Regions from separate parts of the Homo sapiens genome. Here region 1 is linked to region 2. Evidence: fine-mapped expression QTL. A gene starts in region 2. The other region holds a variant in brackets. All regions are shown on one strand. Distances are from middle to middle. Region 1 overlaps DNAH2 (dynein axonemal heavy chain 2). Region 2 holds the start of FGF11 (fibroblast growth factor 11).

Evidence for each region.
Region 1: its variant is fine-mapped to the expression of FGF11 in whole blood (TOPMed, PIP 0.92).

Annotation. Positions count from the first base shown.
Region 1 is chr17:7,764,482-7,772,481 of GRCh38, forward strand. It overlaps DNAH2 (dynein axonemal heavy chain 2), which reads left to right. Exons shown (of 86, transcript NM_020877.5): 21 at 910-1,084; 22 at 1,837-2,000; 23 at 3,419-3,580; 24 at 3,683-3,786; 25 at 5,771-5,927; 26 at 6,076-6,158; 27 at 6,272-6,452; 28 at 6,849-6,987. Among named protein-coding and RNA genes, the nearest start is that of DNAH2, 51 kb to the left of the region's middle. The variant T/G (reference allele first, on the strand shown) is at 4,563.
Region 2 is chr17:7,434,507-7,443,020 of GRCh38, forward strand. FGF11 (fibroblast growth factor 11) reads left to right here and starts at 5,006. Exons shown (of 5, transcript NM_004112.4): 1 at 5,006-5,307; 2 at 6,965-7,075; 3 at 7,270-7,373; 4 at 8,088-8,286. The coding sequence starts at 5,115. TMEM102 (transmembrane protein 102) reads left to right here and starts at 929. Exons shown (of 3, transcript NM_178518.3): 1 at 929-1,190; 2 at 1,347-1,579; 3 at 1,688-3,173. The coding sequence starts at 1,366. The coding sequence ends at 3,000. RefSeq lists enhancers at 613-782, 1,834-2,743, 3,540-3,639, 3,654-4,562, 4,816-5,349 and silencers at 2,479-2,758, 3,730-3,829, 5,108-5,207, 6,118-6,227.

The DNA of each region.
Region 1 (8,000 bases), 330 kb after region 2:
ACAGAGTCTGGCTCTGTCACCCAGGCTGGAGTGCAGTGGCACGATCTTGGCCTACTGCAACCTCTGCCTCCCAGGCTCAAGTGATTCTCCTACTTCAGCCTCCCAAGTAGCTGGGAACACAGGCACACGCCACCACGCCTTGCTGATTTTTGTATTTTTTGTAGGGATGGGGGTCTCATTTTGTTGCCCAGGCTGGTCTTAAACTCCTGAACTCAAGCAATCTGCTGACCTCGGCCTCCCAAAGTGCTGGGATTACAGGTGTGAGCCACCGCACCCAGCTGGATTTACTTACTGTATTTACTTTTTTTTTTTTTTTTTTTTTTGGTTTTGGCCTCATTCTCAGATATACAGCTTTTGGATTTTTTTTTTTTTTTTTTTTGAGACAGGGCCTCCATCCATTACCCAGGCTGGAGTGCAGTGGTGCAATCATGGCTCACTGCAGCCTCAACTTCCTGGGCTCAAGCGATCCTCCCACCTCAGCCTCCTGAGTAGCTGGGACTACAGGCACCTCAAGTGATCCTCCCACCTTGGCCTCCCAAAGTGCTGGGATCACAGGCGTGAGCCACCACACCCGGCCAGGGTTTCTTTTAGGCCTGGCAAACTCACACCTTGATTTTTTTAGCCCTTGTCACATGTGCAAAACTCGTCCCCAGACTCTGGTCTGGAGGATCAGAAAAGAGTCCTTAAAAACTTTCATGAGAGGGCAGACCTCCTGCTCCTGGTCATCCTCCACGCATGAGAGGGCAGACCTCCTGCTCCTGGTCATCCTCCACTCATGAGAGGGCAGACCTCCTGCTCCTGGTCATCCTCCACTCATGAGAGGGCAGACCTCCTGCTCCTGGTCATCCTCCACGCATGAGAGGGCAGACCTCCTGCTCCTGGTCATCCTCCACTCTCTGACTCCCCCAGGTCCTGGAGATGCTGGACAGTCTCAACGGGGAGTGGGTTGTCTTCCAACAAACTCTGCTGGACAGTAAGCAAATGCTGAAGAAACACAAGGAGAAATTCAAGACAGGCCTGATCCACTCGGCAGATGACTTCAAGAAGAAAGCACATACACTTCTGGAAGATTTCGAATTCAAAGGTACTCCTTGATCCACCTCTCCCGCTTCTTTAGCCTTTGTTTAGAGACCCCGCCTTCCAAGCCCAGGTCCTGGGAAGGCGAGAACTGGGAGGGGAGGAGGAGGGTCGGTGCTGGGGTGGGGGAAGAGCCTCCACTCAGGAGCAAAGGAGGAGGACACTCAGTGGCTCTCGTTTTGGGTAGACAGCGGCGCAGCTCACAGCATTTCTACTTTTCTTTTTTCTTTTTTTTTTTGAGATGGAATCTCGCTCTGTCACCAGGCTGGAGTGCAGTGGCTCGATCTCAGCTCACTGCAACCTCCGCCTCCCAGGTTCAAACGATTCTCCTGCCTCAGCCTCCCCGAGTAGCTGGGACTACAGGCACATGCCACCACACCCGGCTAATTTTTGTATTTTTAGTACAGACAGGGTTTTACCATGTTGGCGAGGATGGTCTTGATCTCTTGACCTTGTGATCTGCCTGCCTCGGCCTCCCAAAGTACTGGAATTACAGGTGTGAGCCACCGCGCCCGGCCCGCATTTCTACTTTTCTTATCCCGACTTCCATATTCCATCTGTTCCTGACTCTCAAGCCACATTTAGGAGTTTTTGCTAAGATTAACCGTTATTCTTTCAACGCGTTCCCTCTTACTCTCCTTCCCTTCCCTCTCTCACGTGAGGAGAGAGGTGAGATTTGCCCACAAAGAGATAGGAGAGCCATGGCTGTCCTTGCCAGACGTGAGCGGGAAGCTGAGCTTCATCCTGAATCCTCCACAGGCCATTTCACCAGCAACGTGGGATACATGTCTGCCTTAGACCAGATTACACAAGTGCGGGCCATGCTGATGGCCATGCGGGAAGAGGAAAATAGTCTCCGAGCCAACCTGGGCATCTTCAAGATCGAGCAGCCACCCTCCAAGGACCTTCAGAACCTGGAGAAGGTGGTGTGCTGAGCAAGGACCCTGTGGTCACTGTCGATAAGGGGCAGGGACAGGAGAATGGGTCCTTAGCGCCCACAAAGGCAGTGGGAAGGGAGAGGAGCTCACAAGGAGCTTTTGTTTGTTTCAGTTGAGGTAAAATTCATACAACAAAATTAATCCTTTTTTTTTTTTTTTTTTTTTTTTTGAGATAGAGTCTTGCTCTCTCACCCAGGCTGGAGTGCAGTGGCACAATCTCGGCTCACTATAACCTCTGCCTCCCGGGTTCAAGCGATTCTCATGCCTCACACTCCCGAGTAGCTGGGATTACAAGCATCCACCACTATGCATGGCTAATTTTTATATTTTTAGTATAGAGATGGGGTTTCACCATATTGTCCAGACTGGTCTCGAACTCCTGACCTCAGGTGATCCACCTGGCTCGACCTCCCAAAGTGCTAGGATTACAGGTGTGAGCCACCACGCCCTGCCAAAATTAACCATTTTGAAGTAAACAATTCGTGACGTTTAGTAATTCATACCACATCTATCTAATTCCCAAACATTTTTATTACCCTAAAGGAAACTCTGCCCATTAGCAGTCACGTGCATCCCCCGTCCCCCGCCCCAGTCCCCCGTCCCCCGCCCCAGTCTGTTATGAGCCTGTTTTCCATGTGTATGATTCCCCTATTCTGGACACTTCATACAAATGGAACCATTTGTATGATAATACGTGGCCTTTTTAATCTGGCTTCTTTCGCTTAGCATAATGTCTTCAAGGTTCATCCATGGTGTGGCATGGATCAGTACTTTTTTAAATGGCTGAATATTCATATTTGAATATCGCATGAGTTTACCACATTTTGTTTACCATTCACCAGTTGATGGACATTTGGGTTGTTTCCACCTTTTAGCTAAAGGGAGTAGTGCTGCCATGAACACGCGTGTACTTGTATTTGTCTGAACACCTGTTCCCTATTCTTGTGAGTGTAAGCCTAGGGGTGGAATTGCTAGATCATATGGAAACTCTATGTTTAACTTTTTGAGGAGCTGCCAAGCCATTTTCCACAGCAGCTGCACCGTTTCACATTCCCACTAGCAGTGTACAAGTCTCCCTATTTCTCCATATCTCCGTGCCAACACTTATTTACCTTTTTTTTTTTTTTTTTGGTTCTAGCCATCCTAGCGGGTGTGAAGTGGCATCCCACTGAGGTTTTGATTTGCATTTCCCTAATGACTCATGACATTGAGGATTTTTTCATGTGCTTGTTCCTTGATAAGCTCTTAAGGCAACAGAGTGGAGAAAAATATGTGGACTGAGGAGGCCGCTGTATTATCTAGAGGGGAAGCTTCACAGAGCGAGAGCAGCGAAGGGCCTGGGCGTCCGTCAGGGAGGAAGAGGGCAGGTGCCACTTCATGCAACGCGCCTTTCTGCCCTGTAGGAGCTCGATGCCCTCCAGCAAATCTGGGAGATCGCACGAGACTGGGAGGAGAACTGGAATGAGTGGAAGACTGGCCGGTTCCTGATCCTGCAGACGGAAACCATGGAGACCACGGCCCACGGGCTGTTTCGTCGCCTCACAAAATTAGCCAAAGAGTATAAGGTGGGGAGAAACGGCGGGGAGGCGGAAGAGAAGCTGGTGGAGGATCTGGGTCTGTTCCCAGGGAGGTCGTCGGGTCTTCTCATGCCCCCAACTTTTGCTCAGGACCGAAACTGGGAAATTATTGAAACCACTCGCTCAAAAATAGAGCAGTTCAAGAGGACCATGCCTCTCATCTCAGACCTGCGGAACCCTGCCCTTAGAGAGAGGTGAGGCTTCTCCTCTGCTCCGGGGTGTCCACTCTGCCCCGCTGGCCTGCGCCACCACTTGGTCCCTCCCATTCTCCTCTCCGCAGTGTTCACAGCCCTCTCTTCCCCTCTGTCCACAAATGTATGTCTTTTTCTCTTTCCTCTTTTTAACATTTAATTTTGATGGACGCATGAAAATTGCATACACTTTGGTGTACAGCATAATGTTTTGAAATATGTACACATTGTAGAATGGCTAAATTGAGCTAATTATCATATGCATTACCTCACATACCTATTTTTTGTAGTGAGAGTACTGAAAAGCTACTCTCAGTGATTTTCAAGTATACAATAGATTGTTATTAACCATTGTTGCCGTGATGTACAGGAGATCATCCCTCTTGTCTAACTGAAATTTTGTGTCCTTTGACCAACACCTCCCGAACTTTCCACCTACCACCCCCAGCCCCTGGTAACCAGCACTCGACTCTGCTTCTGTGAGTTCAACCTGTTCAGACTTTACATATGACATATGAGTGCGATCATGCGGTGTTTGTCTTTCTTCGCCTGGCTTATTTCGCTTAGCATAATGTCCTCCAGGTTCTTCCATGTTGTTGCAAATGACAGGATTTTCTTCTTTCCTGAGGCTGAAGAGTATTTCTTTGTATATATACACCACATTTTCATCCTCCATTCATCGCTTGATGGACACTTAGGGTGATTCCACATCTTAGCTATTGCAAATAGTGCTCAGCGAACATGTGGCGCAGACACCAAGCCTGCCACTGTCCTCTGCT[T/G]CTTGCACTGTCTCGGGTCATCCAGCCTTGCTGGCTTCTTGTTCTCTGACCCCTGCCCTGGGGCCTCCCTCTCTCTGAAAGGGAGTTGTCTATCATGACTAAGTCTTATGTCTTTTTTTTTCCTTTTTTTGTGGGGGAGACAAAGTCTCACTCTGTTGCCCTGGCTGGGGTGCAGTGCTGTGATCTCGGCTCACTGTAACCTTCACCTCGCGGGTTCAAGCAATTCTTGTGCCTCAGCCTCCCAAGTAGCTGGGATTACAGGCACCTGCCACCATGCTCTGCTAATTTTTGTATTTTTAGTAGAGATGGGGTTTTGCCATGTTGCCCAAGATGGTCTTGAACTCCTGGCCTCAAGTGATCCGCTCGCCTTGGCCTCCCAAAGTGCTGGGATTACAGGCATGAGCCACCGTGCCCGTCCCGCCTTATGTCTTTTGTTATACAAAAGATTTTATTTTGAGGTAGCCAGAAGTATAACTTTCTTTCTGTATGGTTTTTGCCTTTGTGCCTTGTTTAGGAAGACCTTTCCTATCCCAAAGTTACAAATACATCCTCTTCATTCTTTCCTCTAATGCTTTGTGTTTCTCAGGTTTAACTCTTTTAATTCATCTGGAATTTATTATATGGCAGAGGATGTATCTCAAACCATTGGGGATAGATTTATAAAAATAAAGTAATTTTTATAAATGGTGTTTCAATCATGATCTATCCATTTAAGAGAAAATAATTTTACTTCTTTGTCTTTCTTCCAGTATAACGTTTTTGGCAATGCCAAACCATTAAGTGTTATACGGTTATGTATAACCTAACCACTTTATTTGCTTACATTATTTAACCTCTCTAAGCCTCAGTTTTCTCATCTGTAAATGGAATAATAATAATTCCTAATTTATAGAGTAGCCGTGAGAATGATATGAGATGTTTCATGTAAGGCCTTTACTCAGTACAGTTCTAGAGTAAACCTGCGGTGATTCATTGTGTGTTTTGTGGGCACACCTGCCTTAACTTCCTCTCCAGAGAATCCACTCCTGGAGGGTTTCACCTCAATCTTCGTATTCCCCTGGTGCCTAAGATTGCATCTTCGAGCCTGTTTAGCAAAATGAGTTGAATCATGAATTGGTAACTATGCAGAATCATAGTGTCCCAGTGGGAGACAGCAATGGAGTGATGGTAACTCTCCTGACCTCACACCCTCCTGTTCCTGGCTGCAGGCACTGGGACCAGGTCCGGGATGAGATCCAGCGGGAGTTTGATCAGGAATCTGAAAGCTTCACCTTGGAGCAGATTGTGGAGCTTGGGATGGATCAGCATGTGGAGAAAATTGGGGAGATCTCTGCTTCAGCAACTAAAGAGCTGGCTATAGAAGTGGTACGACAGTCCCCTCCCATGCTCCCACACCTCCTGCGCCTCCTGGAGCACAGGCTCCAGCTGTTCATCATCTGATGGCGCCTCTCAGCTCCTGTTCCCCTTAGTGAAGAGATACCTGACTGCTGTGTCCCCCAATTTCTCTCCACAGGCTTTACAAAACATTGCCAAGACCTGGGATGTGACTCAGCTCGACATAGTACCCTACAAGGATAAGGGCCATCATCGGCTCAGGTCAGGGGAGCTGGGGCTCTAGGAGAATGGAGGGCTGTGTGACCCAGGCTGCAGAGTGGGACCAAGGTTGGGCAGGTGGGGATGAACTATGATTTTGACCCCTTGTGTCTCAGAGGTACAGAAGAAGTATTCCAGGCACTGGAAGATAACCAGGTAGCTCTGTCTACCATGAAGGCATCACGCTTTGTCAAGGCCTTTGAGAAGGATGTGGACCACTGGGAACGCTGCCTCTCCCTCATTTTGGAGGTTATTGAGATGATTCTCACAGTGCAGCGTCAGTGGATGTACTTAGAGGTCAGGACTCAGCGCCTGAGCTCTTCCTGCTTCCTGCTCTTACTCCTTCTTTTTCTTAAGACCTAGATTTTGCCCTGTTATCAGCCTCATTCTCCTACCTTTAAAGTCACTCTTCATCTAGGACCCAGCTGTCTGATTCTTAGTTATTACCTCTCACCTTAGATTCCCTCCGTAACAAGTTTTTGTTCTTCTCAGATTTTTCTTCCATTTTTCTTCTTAGACCCAGGTAGCTGGCCCCCTACCTCCAGCTTTCCTTGTAGAACTTGGGCATCTTGGCCTTTGACTTCTAGCACTCTGTATCTTCTACCCAACTGTCACCCACAATCTGGGAACAGGGAGCAGAGGGTGGAGAGTGTGTAAGAAGTGGCCTCTCACCCCAACTTTTGGCCCCCTCAGAATATCTTCCTAGGAGAAGACATCCGCAAGCAGCTGCCCAATGAATCGACCTTATTTGACCAGGTCAACAGCAACTGGAAAGCCATCATGGACAGGATGAACAAGGACAACAATGCTCTCCGGAGCACCCATCACCCAGGTCAGAGCTCCAGGGCTCCTGCCCTGACACAGCCTCGGCAGGCACTCTGCTTGGTCATGGTTGCGTGCTTCATTTATTAAAAAGACTGATGCCCCCAGCTCTCCTAACATTTCCCATCTCCATCACCTCTTCTAAGCATTAGATCATAATTCTGTAAATTAAACTCAACAAATATTTGAGTGGAGTATAATAATGTAGTGGTTAAGAGCATGGGATATGGAATCAGTCAGATGAGTTTATTTATTTATTAAAAAAAATTTTTTTTTTGAGACAGAGTTTTGCACATTGCCCAGGCTGGAGTGCAGTGGTGCGATCTCGGCTCACTGCAATCTCTGCCTCCCGGGTTCAAATGATTCTCCTGCTTCAGCCTCCCAAGTAGCTGGGAATACAAGCGTGTGCCACTACCTCTGGCTAATTTTTTTATTTTTAGTAGAGATGGCGTTTCACCAAGTTGGCCAGGCTGCCTTGAACTCTTGACCTCAGGTGATTCACCTCCCTCAGCCTCCCAAAGTTCTGGGATTACAGGTGTGGGACACTGAGCCCAGCCTACGTTGACTTTCTTTTAGCAGATTAACTAGCCTTCAGCCATGGGATGGGGTAGGGTATGGGGAAGAAAGGGATGAACACACGGCAAGATGAACACATAGTGAGGCCTGGTCGACTGGGGGAGACTGGGGTAGACAATCAGGGAGTCAGGTTTGACAGCGGGCACCTAGAATGGGCATCCTGTGCAGAAGAATTCTGGTGGGGGTGCAGAGGACCTCTTTATTTTACCTAGGGCTAGTCTTAACAGTGCTTCATTTTCCCAAGAGCCTTCAGTATACACATCAATAAAAATAATTTTAATTATTCTGATAAAAGATAAACATGAAAAGTTATGGTATGCAAAGTTGAATGACAACAACTGATACTATTTGAAATAATTGACAGAATTATATTCCGTAACAATTTATAAGCAAAGCCAAAAAAACAATGATCCCTTTGTTGAATGCACAGAACAAATCCATCTTGTC
Region 2 (8,514 bases):
ACCCGGGAGGTGGAGGTTGCAGTGAGCGGAGATTGCGCCACAGCACTCCAGTCTGGGCAACAGTGCGAGACTCAGTCTCAAAAACAAAACAAAACAAAACAAAAATTTGAGATCCCAAAGTGTTTTCCCTGCCACGACTCAGGTAGCAGTGAGCTGAGGTGGGCATCACTAACATGTATGTCTCTCCTATGAGTCAAACGTCCATTTCTGGGTCACCATCTGTGTGCTCCTGCCTAACACTACCACTTTTGGGATTCCAAGATGCACCCCCCCCACCCCACCCAGGCAGGGGTCCCTATCTCTCCCCAGGCCCTAGGGTGGAGTTTCGCTCTTATCACCCAGGCTGGAGTGCAATGGCACAATCTCAGCTCACTGCACCCTTTCCCTCCTAGGTTCAAGTGATTCTCCTGCCTCAGCCTCCTAAGTAGCTGGGATTACAGGCGTCTGCCACCACGCCCGGCTAATTTTTGTATTTTTAGTAGAGACAGGGTTTCGCAATGTTGGCCAGGCTGGCCTTGAACTCCTGACCTCAGGTGATTCACCCGCCTCAGTCTCCCAAAGTGCTGGGGTTACAGGCGGGAGCCACCGCGCCCGGCCCATCCCTCATTATTTTTTGCGACTCAGAGCCATCCTATTACCCCTCTCAAACCCCAAGGAATGTTTGAGTGGGGTTGATATGGGTGTGAAAAGACACAGAATAATCTGTCTCCAGAGGAACTACAACTTCCATCAGGCACTACTTCAGCGGAACAGGAAAGGATGTGGGGGCGTGGCTACCACGCCCTAGTAGAGCGGGAAACTACAACTCCCAGGATAACGCGGGATTTCAGCAGGGCCAAAAGAGTGATTGAGCTCTGACTGGCGACCCGACCCGGCGGAAACCACCTCGACAGCCTCCAGAAAGGGGCGTGGCTGAAAATGTAGGGGCGTGGCCACGTGGGCATCAGGAAGAAGTAACCTGTTGAATCTATTTCTGCTCCCCACCCTTACTGCTTCCCATAAGGGGGAAGCCGCAGACTAATAAGCCTCTTCCAAAAAAGAGGTAAAGGGAGGTAGACAAGGGGCGGCAGCGGAGGCTGGCTACTGCATTCCGTAGGAGGAGCCAACAGTTACTTTTTACCTGCTGAGTCCGGTGAACCAGTTCATGGGGGCGGGGACCTGCCTATGAGAAAAGGGCCAGGATAGAAGAGGTATTTATTTGTTCATTTTGAGGACTAAATTTAGAACCCATCATCTACAGACCCATTTGTAGGTTGTGTCTGGGGCACTCGCTCGGCCTCAGGAAGAGGGAAGAACGGGGACGACTTTGTGGCAGCAAAGCCACCTCCCTTCCGTGTTTTCCGCAGCCCAAAGCGATAGAACCGCATGGCTTCCGCAGTCTGGGGGAGTGCCCCCTGGTGGGGCCCGCCGCCCCCGGCCCCAGCTCGGCCGCTCACGGACATCGACTTCTGCTCCGGGGCGCAGCTGCAGGAATTGACCCAGCTGATCCAGGAGCTGGGTGTGCAGGAGAGCTGGAGTGACGGGCCCAAGCCGGGAGCCGATCTCCTCCGGGCCAAGGACTTTGTCTTCTCTTTGCTTGGTAAGTAACCCTACTTGCCTTTGGGAACTCACAGCTCTCAGCCTCACCACGCCCCCGCCCCCGCCCCGGCTTTGGGCGACGCCCTCACGATCCGTTCCCTTTTTTTAGGTCTAGTTCACCGCCGGGACCCTCGCTTTCCTCCCCAGGCAGAGCTCTTGCTGCTTCGTGGTGGGATTCGCGAGGGCTCCCTGGATCTGGGGCATGCACCCCTGGGTCCCTACGCCCGGGGACCTCACTACGATGCCGGCTTCACACTCCTAGTGCCCATGTTTTCACTGGACGGCACTGAACTGCAACTGGACCTGGAATCCTGTTACGCACAGGTCTGCCTCCCAGAGATGGTGTGCGGAACCCCCATCCGGGAGATGTGGCAGGATTGCTTAGGACCCCCAGTCCCAGGAGCACGTGATTCGATCCACCGAACGGAGAGCGAAGAAAGTTCCAAGGACTGGCAAAGCTCTGTAGACCAGCCGCACAGCTACGTCACTGAGCACGAGGCGCCGGTGTCTTTGGAAAAATCGCCTAGTGACGTTTCAGCGTCCGAGTCGCCTCAGCATGACGTCGTCGACCTTGGCTCTACCGCACCTTTGAAAACAATGAGTAGTGACGTCACCAAGGCAGCCGTCGAAAGCCCAGTCCCAAAGCCGTCGGAGGCTCGGGAAGCGTGGCCCACATTATGTTCCGCCCAGGTGGCTGCCTGGTTCTTTGCTACGCTGGCGGCGGTCGCCGAGTCTCTGATCCCTGTCCCGGGTGCTCCGCGTCTGGTGCACGCAGCTCGCCACGCGGGTTTCACCACCGTCCTCCTGGCTACCCCTGAGCCCCCTCGCCGCCTCCTGCTCTTCGACCTGATCCCAGTGGTGTCCGTGGCGGGCTGGCCCGAGGGGGCTCGGAGCCACTCGTGGGCCGGTCCGCTGGCCTCTGAGTCGGCTTCCTTCTACCTGGTGCCCGGTGGCGGCACCGAGCGGCCGTGCGCCTCCGCCTGGCAGCTCTGTTTTGCCCGCCAGGAGCTGGCGCTCAAAGCGCGCATACCAGCGCCGCTGCTGCAGGCGCACGCGGCGGCCCAGGCGCTACTGCGCCCGCTGGTGGCCGGGACCCGGGCGGCGGCGCCCTACCTCCTGCGGACGCTGCTGTACTGGGCGTGCGAGCGGCTGCCTGCGCTCTACCTGGCGCGGCCAGAAAATGCGGGCGCCTGCTGCCTCGGGCTGCTAGACGAGCTCGGCCGAGTGCTCGAGGCCGGGACGTTGCCTCACTATTTTCTGAACGGCCGACAGCTCCGTACGGGGGACGACTCCGCTGCGCTGCTCGGAGAATTGGCCCGGCTCCGCGGGGACCCGGCCCGGGCCCTCCGTGCCGCGGTGGAGGAGGCCAAAGTGGCCCGCAAGGGGGGCGGTTTGGCGGGCGTGGGGGGCGGGGCCCATTAAAGACGCTGTTCCTACCAGTGGAAAGTGCCTCTGTGGGCGAGCGGGACGTGGGGGGCCCTGCTCGCCCCTCGCCAGGGGGACTGACTGTGTGCCCTGGGCCTGAAGCCCCCCTTCTGGAAGACCTCCCTGTTGGTTCCTCCTCTACGCCCACCCGCCTGCCCCCGCACAAGTTGCCCCATTCCAGCCTCGCTATTCTCCACATCTGTGGCCAGCACTCCGCCCAGGGGCAGCTTCCAGAAACCGTCTGTCCCCAGTTCTTTTGGTCATTTCTCTTAAGGGCCAATAGAAATGGGAGAAACATATTTGCTGACCAAACGCGAAAAGGAGTTATGGAGACCAGGGTCTGATCAATTTGGCTCACACAACGGCAGAGATATGAAGGAGGCCGGATTTCGCCCAAGGCTGGATCTCACCACCCCCCATCCTCCATCTCTCCAGTTCTTCCCCCACTTTACTCGTGCGGTTCTTTCTTCACTAACATCCCGGCCAGTAGGGTCTCTCTCCCTTCTCCCAGCGTCCGCCATTCCATCTCCCTTAGGCCCAACCTCTCCTTCCTACCCAGGGGTGCGTTCAGGAGGCCTTCCTGTCCCTCCTCCTCTGAAGGCTGAGACGTGCGGCCTTGCCTCGGCTTTGCCTGCTTGTAAGACACAGTCCGCACTCTCTACCTCCAAGGAACCCCGGGGTTCCTCCTGCCCGGCTTCACCCTCCTATTTCCCAGCGTCTCCGCCCCCTGCCCCGCCCCCGGGCCGGCTCTCCGAGGAGGGGGAACTGCTGTCGCCGCCGCCGCCGCCGCCTCAGCTTCCCACAGCCGCTGCCGCTGCCGCCGCTCTGCCTGGTCCAGCCACCGGCCCAGTGCTCTGACTTCGCCGGACCGGGGAGCTCTGCAGAGACACCCTCACTCCTTCCCGAGGGTCCGGGACGCCTAGCCGGGCGTGGGGGGAAGCTCCGTTTGCGGGGGACAGGGAGGGAGGAGCCTGGAGCCGAAGCCAGCGCCACCCGTCGCCGGATCAACAGGACAGGACAGGTTGAGGGGCGTCGGGAAAAGGAAGAGGGGGTGCTATAGGCAATCCCGGGGAGGACGAGGAAGCCCTGTAGCAGGAAGCTGTGATCCGCTCTGACTTGTAGGGGGCCTGTTCACATCTGGGGACTGGTGACAACGTGGGTGCACTCCTCTCTTGGGGGGCTGGTTAGATTGGAGGGCGTGGGATCTAAACAGCACCAGCTGTCCCCAAGAAAATTTAAGGGGCAGCCAGGGGAGAAAAAAACAAAAACAAAAACAAACACGGATGCTCCTCATTTTGAGGTGGCGGAAGGCCCTCCAGTCAACTACCTGGTGTATCCACTAGGAAGGGTGGATTTGGAGGTGACTTCAAAAGGAGCGGAGGGTGTGAAGGTGAAGAAAGGGTCTTGGCCGCTAGAATTCTATGCTACTAGACATGGGGGGGACTTGGTGAAAAAGGTATTATCCAGCCAGAGGGTCTGGGAGCCCTGTCTTACTGAACCTGGGCAACCTGGATATTCTGAGACATATTTTGGGGGGATTTCAGTGAAAAAAGTGGGGGATCCCCTCCATTTAGAGTGTAGCAAAGGAAAAAACACCAAGGTTGGGTTCCTTCCTGACATTGGCAGTGCCCCAGTAGGGGTGGGATGAGCGAATATTCCCAAAGCTAAAGTCCCACACCCTGTAGATTACAAGAGTGGATTTGGCAGGAGTGTGCCCCAAAATACAGTGGAAAGGTGCCTGAAGATATTTAAACCACGTCTTGGAAATTTAGTGGGTCTTGGCTTTGGGATAGGTGAAGTGAGGACAGACACTGGAGAGGAGGGAAAGGGGACGTTTTCAATAGGAGGCAAAACTCGAGGGTGGGATCCACTGAGGAGTACATAGGCTGCTGGATCTGGTGGAGCCAGCACTGGGCCCACGGGTGGTAACTGGCTGCTGTGGAGGGGGGTACGTGAGGGGGGGGGTCTGGGGCTTATCCTCAGGTCCTGTGGGTGGGGCAGCGAGTCGGGGCCTGAGCGTCAAGAGCATGCCCTAGTGAGCGGGCTCCTCTGGGGGAGCCCAGCGCGCTCCGGGCGCCTGCCGGTTTGGGGGTGTCTCCTCCCGGGGCGCTATGGCGGCGCTGGCCAGTAGCCTGATCCGGCAGAAGCGGGAGGTCCGCGAGCCCGGGGGCAGCCGGCCGGTGTCGGCGCAGCGGCGCGTGTGTCCCCGCGGCACCAAGTCCCTTTGCCAGAAGCAGCTCCTCATCCTGCTGTCCAAGGTGCGACTGTGCGGGGGGCGGCCCGCGCGGCCGGACCGCGGCCCGGGTGAGTGCGGCTGGGGCGGGGTCTCCCGGCCAGAGGTTTCTCTGCCTGGGAGATTGAGGCCAGGGACTCTGAAGAATAGGGCCCGGCTGAGGGGCTCCCCGAAAGTGGAAGGGGGTGGGCCAGGACGACAAAGTCCCTGCCAGACTGTGCCTCAGTTTCCCTTCTCTTTTGTCCATAACCCGGAGTCTCCTTATTTTCGAGGTCAAGGGGAAGGCTTGAGGGGCTGCCTGGCGCCCCGAAAGCCTCGTAGTTCCTGCTCGTCCCCCCTTCCCAACACAGCAGTCCCCACCCCCATCGTCCTCCGCCTACGTGCCGGTTCTCGCGATTCTTTCAATCTGGAGCGGAGGGGCCCGGGGGTTTCCAGATGCCTGGGTCACCCCAAGGATTTCTGCAGCTCCAGCCGCACGCCCCCCCCCAGCCCCCGCCTGCCCCGGTTCTCCCGCTCCTCCACGCCTGGGCTCGGTTCCTCCTGGTCGAGCTCTGCTGGCTCCGAGCCAATCTCCCCAGCTCTCCCTCGGGTGTCCTTGCAGCTACCTCGCCAGCCAGCCCTCTATGCGCCCTCCTCCTGTGACCTGCGCTTCAAGAACGGAGCTGGGCACCCCTCCCATAACCCCCGCGCCACTCCGAAATCGGGTCCCGTAGGCTCAGGGGACCCTACGCTGGCAGGAACTCAGACACAGTTCACGGCTAGAGATGGGCGCCGACTCGGGGGTCGTACCACCTACAAGGGGGGACAGGGAAGTCGGCAGAGAGCAAGCGATGGGGGAGGAGAGTTGTGAGAGTTAGAATTGGTCCCCGTCCATGTACGACAGTCAGGGAGTCCCTCTGGCCCTGCTCCCGCCCGCTCCCAGCTCCCCTAAGGGTAGCCACCTCGCGCCCTCCTCCCCGCGCCACCGGCTGCCCATAGTGGTACAATCCGCAGCCCACCCTCTGAGTAGGACCGGGCCCCCACGTGACTCAGCCTGCCTCTCCATCTCCTCAGCTCCCACCCCCCATATCCTTGGTAAGGTCCCCCTTACCCCAGGCGAGTTACCTGGCCGAAGGGGAGAGGCTGAGCCTCAGGGAGAACTGGGCCCCCGGGAGCCAGCGGACTGACAGACAGACAGACAGACAGACAGATGGGTCAGTGTCAGACAGGCCGGCGCTGGGCCAAGGCAAGGCTCTCGCCAAGCTAGCGGCAGCCGCAGCAGGTGCTGAGTCAGCGTCAGGCCCAGTCCCACCCCCACTCCTGAGGGAGAGCCCCTACCCTGTGGTCAATTTGCTGCTGCCAAGATCCCCCACCTTCGCAAACACGCTGCCCCTTCAGTACCCCTGCTGGTCTCCCTCTGTCCCTGCCTTTTGATATATCTCTCCCCTCCCTCCTCCCCCACTCCTTCCCCCTTCTGGTTGAGCTGTAGGGTAGGAATTAAGCCATTTAAATAAATTTCAATAAATTACACTGAAAGCTCCTGGTTATAGGAAACAGAAGGGACCCACACCAGCTTTCCCAGGAGTGAAAGAGAGGTGGGAGAGAGCGTGCTTGGAGGATAAGAGAGCTGGGGCCCTGGGACCCTCTTCCTTCCTTTCATTCTCCTTTCTTCCCTCTAATCCTGCCAAGTGTAGGAATGTTTCTGGGAACGGAGATGTCATTTTCAAAGATGAATGTCTCTCTCTCCAGAGCCTCAGCTCAAAGGCATCGTCACCAAACTGTTCTGCCGCCAGGGTTTCTACCTCCAGGCGAATCCCGACGGAAGCATCCAGGGCACCCCAGAGGATACCAGCTCCTTCAGTGAGAGGGGAAGCTGGCTGCAGGGTGGGAAGGGGGAGAATGGGGACAGGAGATGACAATCCTATTCCCTCTTCAGCTTCTGTTGCCATTGATCCGTCTTCCTGACCTCTAAGGGAAAAAGTGGAGCTGGGATGAGGGGAGCTCAGGTGAGGGTCAGAGGCCTGGGTATTGATGCTCCCTCTCTCCACCTGCAGCCCACTTCAACCTGATCCCTGTGGGCCTCCGTGTGGTCACCATCCAGAGCGCCAAGCTGGGTCACTACATGGCCATGAATGCTGAGGGACTGCTCTACAGTTCGGTGAGACAATGAGGCTGAGTGGCCGGGAAATACTGGGGACTCCCCTTCCTCAATTTGTCCCTTGAGGGAATGACAACCTTCCTCAACTACAGACATTTTGCCCGGGACTCCTCCCTCCAGCTTTGCTGATGGCCTGTCATCGCTGCCCATTCCAGACCAGCTCCTCTAGGGTCTCTCCAGTCCCCACTCCTTGCACACCCCCAAAACAGCCCCAGGTTCTTTGAATGTCCAACTCTTTCTGCCTTTTAGGGCCCCTACTTCTTATCCCACCTCCTCCAGATTTTGTCATTACTCACTTCCCTAGAGTCATCCAGGATAGGGGATAGTGAGAGACTGGGAGTACAGTGGAGAGAAGGAATCTTATTGCAAGACCCCTAAAAGTCTAGTTCTTTTTTTTTTTTTTAAATAGTGACAGGGTCTTGCTATGTTGGCCAGGCTGGTCTGGAACTCCTGACCTCAGGTGATCCACCCGCCTCGGCCTCCCAAAGTGTTGGGATTATAGGCATGAGCCACTGTGCTTGGCCCAGAGCCTAGTTCTTAGCCCTCAGCCCTCTTCCTTGTCCTCCCTTTGCTCCCAGGTCCTACATGGACTCAGAAGTTGTCCTCCCCCTCCCCCAAAAAGGATTTGTGCTTTCCATGAGCTCCTTTCTGCCCAGTGATGTGTCTTTTTATCTCTCTGTCTTTGTGCGCCTTTCTGGGTCTTTGTCTCCTTAGCCGCATTTCACAGCTGAGTGTCGCTTTAAGGAGTGTGTCTTTGAGAATTACTACGTCCTGTACGCCTCTGCTCTCTACCGCCAGCGTCGTTCTGGCCGGGCCTGGTACCTCGGCCTGGACAAGGAGGGCCAGGTCATGAAGGGAAACCGAGTTAAGAAGACCAAGGCAGCTGCCCACTTTCTGCCCAAGCTCCTGGAGGGTGGGTATAGACTCAAGAAAATGTGGGCCACAGGAGAGGGTATTGACCTTGATATGGACATTTAGGGGCAGACAGCTCAGGCTACAAGTGATAAGAGGACCCTTTGTGACAGATCAAGCCAGGAAGGCTTTGCCCTTTGGGGGTTTGGGTGCGGTCCTCCTGTGGGGTTGGGGTTCTTGGAGGGTGAATGTACGGGAAGGGAGCCCTTTTGGAGCACTGGTTCTGCCT